Linked DNA regions of Homo sapiens: region 1 is linked to region 2. Evidence: fine-mapped expression QTL. A gene starts in region 2. The other region holds a variant in brackets. All regions are shown on one strand. Distances are between the middles of the regions.

Evidence for each region.
Region 1: its variant is fine-mapped to the expression of MED25 in transverse colon (GTEx, PIP 0.93).

What each region holds. Positions count from the first base shown.
Region 1 is chr19:49,855,537-49,858,429 of GRCh38, reverse strand. It overlaps PTOV1 (PTOV1 extended AT-hook containing adaptor protein), which reads right to left. Exons shown (of 12, transcript NM_001394010.1): 6 at 1,300-1,455; 7 at 648-737; 8 at 453-526; 9 at 316-373. It overlaps PTOV1-AS2 (PTOV1 antisense RNA 2), which reads left to right. Exons shown (of 5, transcript NR_110730.1): 4 at 3-83; 5 at 1,358-1,965. Among named protein-coding and RNA genes, the nearest start is that of PTOV1-AS2, 2.3 kb to the left of the region's middle. RefSeq lists enhancers at 2,108-2,157, 2,188-2,247. The variant G/T (reference allele first, on the strand shown) is at 1,641.
Region 2 is chr19:49,817,048-49,819,940 of GRCh38, reverse strand. MED25 (mediator complex subunit 25) reads right to left here and starts at 1,652. Exons shown (of 18, transcript NM_030973.4): 1 at 1,466-1,652; 2 at 1,325-1,370; 3 at 645-769. The coding sequence starts at 1,599. RefSeq lists silencers at 1,444-1,603, 1,530-1,696 and an enhancer at 1,734-2,093.

The sequences.
Region 1 (2,893 bases), 38 kb before region 2:
AGGAAACGTCATCTCCACCGCTCAACCAGCCCAACCCTGGAGTGCTGTGGAAGCCGCTCTCAGATCCCTTGGCAGCCCCCCAGGTGCAGGTCGTGGCTGCCCCTGCCCCGCTCAGTCCCTGCACAGCCACCAGCTGGCTGCCTGGGACCCCTTGAAGCCAAGCCTGAGGAGCTACCCACCACACCTGCTTCAGCACCCTCAGCTCCGCTCCCTCACAGCCAGCTCAGGCCACCTGGGGAGGCGCTCTTGCCCCCAGCCCCGCCCTCTGGAAGAGCTACTGCGTGCAGGCTCCAGCACCCGGCCCCAGCCCCTCACCAGCAGCTGCTGCGGGATGAGCTGCATGTACAGCTTCCTTGGCCACTGCTCGGTCCTCCTGTGGGGCACAAAGGGACGAGGGTCAGGAAGCCCCAGCTCCCCTGGATGCTGCCTCCACCCCCCAGCCCAGCACTCACAGGATCTCCCCCTGGTTCACGTAGACGTGGGATGGCAGCCACCTCTTGGACCGACTGTTGGGCTCAGGCCTGGGCTTTTGGGGGAGAGGCAAAGAGGAGCCCTCAGGGCTGGAGACCCCCAATGCCAGTGTCCCCTCCCAGCCACAGTCCGTGAGGATCTGGGGGTCCCAAGTCCCTGGGCTGCCGAGTGCTCACCTCCTGCCACTCCATGACACCACTCCATGCCAGAAACTTGTTGTTGACGATCTGGACTGGGCCTGAGTTGACACCACCAGGTCCCACTGCCTGTTGGAAGGGAACGGGGTGGGAAGAGGGGCCCAGGCTCCTGGGAAACCTGTCTGTCTGTCCTGGGGCCTGCCATCCCTCCCTCCGAGCCTTGGCCTGTTAGCCCCAGCTGGGTCCATTCTCTAGTCCCAGGGGAACAGGCCCTGCCCCTCATCTGCTCACAGCCCCCCATGGCTCCCCAGTGGCCTGAGACAGGTCCCGGCCCTCACCTGGTGCACAGGACCTGCAGAGTCTGCCTCAACTGGCAAGGCATGACCAGGACACGTGGTTACCAGGCAGGGCCTTCCAGCCGCAGGACGATCCCAACCCCTGCCCAGCTCCCCGCTCCGCTGGCTTCCCTGCCGCCGCGCCAAGACCCACCCTCCAGCCCTGCAGAGCCGCCCAGTGGCCGCTTTTCCATGGAGCCCTGGTGGGAACCCGCCCGGCATCCTCCGGGCTCCCCTGCAGCTCCTTGCTCCAGCCATCGCATCACACTCCGCCCACACCAAGTCTGGCTGCCCAACCAGGGCAGTGGGGTCTAATCCCCCTCTGTCCCCAGAGGGGCTGTGCTTGGCTGGCACACCTGCTTGCGGGTGGTGATGACCTGCCGGATGGCACTGACGAAGCCGCTCTGGTCGTAGGGGATGAGGCCCATGAAGATCTTCTTCTTGGACGAGTACAGGAGCATGAGCACGCGCACCTCACAGGGGGAGATGTGGGGGAACAGCATGCAGCCCGCCTGCGGGGGCCGCGGGTCAGGACCCTGTGGTCACTGCCCGGGGCCACTGTGCCCCCACCACCCTGGACCGCCCCACCTGTAGGGGATGAAGGGAGATCATCGGTGGACAGAGGCCCCCACAGTCAAGGCCATGGCCATAGGTGAGGGGCCTCTGAGAGCCCGTGCAGCGCCCATCGGCATCCCCC[G/T]ACCCTGCCATGGCTGAGGTCAGAGTGGCACCCGGCACCCAGGCTGCGGTGAGAATGCCAAGAAGGCACTACCTCCCACCCACATCACCCCCTGCCGCCAGCCCTCCTGACTGCCTGATGGGGTGACTTGGCCTGGGGGTTAAGAGCACAGGCAGCGCCCCACCGTTCTGCTGCCTCCTAGCTGTGTGACCTAACACCAGCCACCTCCTGCTTCTGGGCCTCCATCATCTGTAAAACCGGGTAATAGTGCACACAGTTGGTGCCACATAAAGGCTCAACAGATAAAGTGCTGGTGCCTCTTGAGGATGGCGCATGGGAGAACTAAGCCTGACAGATGTGCCTGGCTGTGGTGTCTAGATGAAGTGGTGTGACCGTCCCAAAACCCCATGTCCCCTCCCCACACCGGGCCACCCCCACAGTGCTGTCCCCTCCACGCTGCCGGCCTAACTTCTCAACCTTGGTGTCCAGCCCAGGGATCACCCGCTCAGGGCCCTGTCCCTGGCCTCCCTGGAGCCATGCACAGTCAGCCTCCCAGGGCCATGCCTGGGGGGTGAGTATGGATGTCCACTTTCCCTACAGACTGGGTACTCGGGGCCCAGATATGGCAGGCCCTCAACAAACGGTGCTGGGTGAAGGGGGAACGGGTCACTTAAGAGACCTCATGCCAGGCACAAGCCCTGGTCTGCCCCTGGTCTCCTGAGGGAGAAGGGAGGCCCTAGCGGAACCCAGGGCGCTCAACGGCAGCTGGGACGGGTAGAGGCAGACTGTCCCAACAGGGAACAGGGACTGGGAATGTCCCAGAGCCAGGTCCTCTGGGCAGACAACTCGCTCCCACCCCACCCCTGCCTCCTCTCCAGCACCTGCCATCTTTCACAGCCCAAGCCCCCTTTCTGACCTGCCCTGCGCCAGAATCTCAGTCACCTGAACAGCCTCACCAGCTGGGTTCACCCAGCACTCACTAGGTACTAAAGTCACCATCTCAAGCGCTTTACACAAATTCCCTCCCTCCAGCCTCCCGGTGGCCCTAGGAAGCACGGCTCCCCTGTCCTCCCTACCTCAGAAAATGTCATCTCTACCCCTCAACCAGCCCAACCCTGGAGTGCTGCGGAAGCCGCTCTCAGATCCCTTGGCAGCCCCCCGGGTCCAGGTCATGGCCGCGCCTGCCCCACTCAGTCCCTGCACAGCCACTGGCTGGATACCTGGGTCCCCTTGGAGCCAGGCCTGAGGACCTACTCACCGCGCCTGCTTCAGCA
Region 2 (2,893 bases):
GGCAGAAGAATCGCTTCAACCCAGGAGGTACAGGTTGCAGTGAGCCACGACTGTGCCACTGCACTACAAGCCTGGGAGACAGAGCAAGACACTGTTTCAAAAAAAAAAAAAAAAATTCTGACCCAAGCCACAGAGGGATCTATCCTGGCTCTGACCCATCCCCCTGCACTGAGGCTACAATGTACCCATCTGGAAAAGGAGGACAGGGGTAGACGGAAAAAGAGAGGACAGAAAGGGGACAATCACACAGGGAGTACAAGGTGGCTGCTGGAGCTCAGCCAGGCCTCCCTGAATGGGAAGGTTTTTCCTACTTCTAAACTGATGGCAACATTGCTGAGCACACAGAAGCCACCACAAAAGTGACTTCTGACAAAAACACAATCACCCTCAAAGTCCTTTCAATCCCTTAATGTATGAGATGTTTCCTGCAGCTCAAACCCAAGCCATCGCTCATTCACGGCCCCTCGCAGGGACCCCAACCACCCCAAGCCATTACTTATTCACAGCCCCTCACGGGGACACCAACCACCCCAAGCCATCACTTATTCACAGCCTCTCACGGGGACACCAACCACCCCAAGCCATCACTCATTCACGGCCCCTCACAGGGACCAGCAACCCACCCCAAGTGGGGGAAAGCTCACTTAATGCCATCGAGCCAGGTGACAAACTCATAGGCGCTGCTGGTGGGAGCGTGACATTGTACGTAGGACTCGGGAGCGCAGTCCACTGTGTTGAACACCACGAGGCTGTACTGGGTCCCCCCATACTGGGAGGGGAGGACAGAAAACTTTTAATCTGGGACCTCAATTCCCTTTTCCCTTAGAGAAGGAATCAGGGCTCCCAGCTTCCCGTTCCTCCAGAACCAGGAACTCCTCAGCTTCCTCCTTCCTCAGACCCAGCAATCTCGGCCCCAGCCCCTTCTCCCTCAGACCCAGGAATCCAGGCCCCCGGCCCCTCCTCCCTCAGACCCAGGAGCCCAGGCCCCAGCACCTCCTCCCTCAGACCCAGGAATCCAGGCCTCAGCTCCTCCTTTCTCAGACCCAGCAGTCCAGACGCCCAGCCCTTCCTCCCTCAGACCCAGGGATCTGGGCCCCTAGCTCCCTCCTCCCTCGGACCCAGGAATCCGGGCCCCAGCGCCTCCACCCTCAGACCCAGGAGTCCAGGCCCCCAGGCCCTCCTCCCTCAGAACAAGGAGTCCAGACCCCCAGCCCCTCCTCCCTCAAACTCAGGAGTCCAGGCCCAGCCCTTTCTCCCTCCCTCAGACCCAGGAGTCCAGGCCCCCGGCCCCTCCTCCCTCAGGCCCAGGAGTCCCTAGACTCACGTCTCCCCCGAAGTCCGTCTCAGCAGGAGGACCACCATTAAAATACCTGTGAGGGTAGGAAGTGAAAGGTCGGAGTCAGGCAAGAAACTGTGCGAAACTGAAGTGGGAGGGCGGGGTTAGAGTCGCGGAAACAGCACTCACTCGATGGCCGGGAGCAGGTAGTGCTTGCGGAGCCCCTCGAAGTAGGGTCCCAGGTTGGCCGTACCCTCAATCACAAACACCACGTCGGCCACCACGCTCCCGGCGCGGGCCGGGCCCTCGGACCCGGGGACCATACCCCGTGCGGTACCCGCCACCACCACTGCAGCCGCAGCCGACGCCGCGGAATGAGCAGAAATGCGCCTGCGCCGCGCGCGCGCTCGCGTCGGGCGGTTTAGGGCTGCTGGGAATGCTGCCATGTTTGTGCGGGGCACGCGCTGAGGCTTCGTTCTAGCTCCATCCTCCTTCGCCCCCACCGCGTGGAAGACTCAGAAAGGGCATAGTTAGCCCTTCTAGGGGCCTGATGGGTTAGACGGAATTATTGTCAAAAGCTAAATAAATTGAAAGCGGCTCAGTCAGCCGCCATCTTTGAGCGGGGCGTCCAGGTCCGCCTCTTGTCTCAAAGGGAGGGGCAGGAGACCTGGTTGCTATGCAACGCGTACGCTGCCCTTGTTTTCGTTTTTGTGTTTTGTTTTTTGTTTGTTTGTTTTTTCGAAACGGGAGTCTCGCCCTGTCGCCCAGGCTGGAGTGCAGTGGCGCGATCTCGGCTCACTACAACCTCCGCTTCCCGGGTTCAAGCGATTCTCCTGCCTCAGCCTCCCGAGTAGCTGGGATTACAGGTGCCCGCAACCACGCCCCGCTAATTTTTGTATTTTTAGTAGAGAAAGAGTTTCACCCTGTGGGCCAGGCTGTTCTCGAACTCCTGACCTCAAGTGATTCGCCCGCCTTGGCTTCCCAAAGTGCTGAGATTACAGGCGTGAGCCACCGCGCCGGGCCCGCTGCCCTTGTTTTGTAACCGTTAGATTAAGTTTCTGGTTCTGTTCTTTCGGGCGTGGGGACTAGGGGAGGGACGCGAGAAGGATCCAATCACATCGGCGGAAACGAGGTTACTAGGCGACGCTTTAAGGTCGTCCTCAACTTGGAAGGGAGGGCAGTTGTTTTCCCCCCCGAAAAGAAGCCGAACACCAAACCAAGTGCGGGTTGCTAAGCAACACCTGAGCGTTGTTTTCTGGGAGAGGAGCCAGAAACTGGCTTAGAACGTAAATACATTCCAGGTGGATTAAAAATGTAAGTGCAACAAATGAAACCCGAAAACTATCTGAAGGGAAAAAATCTTAATGACTGCCATGGAGTTTCTTAGCACTACAGCAAAGTTAGAAAACGTAGTCTTCATTAATTTTTCCCAAAAGACTGTATAAACCAAGTTGAAAAATATACGGCCAACTGGGAAAATCTTTCTAGCGTGTTTGTTGACAGAAATGTACTACGCAAATAAATCTTACTGATGAATAACAATATAGAAAAATAGAAACACTTCATTACTATTATCTTTTAATTTTAATTTTTATTTTTTGAGGCAGGGTCTCTTTC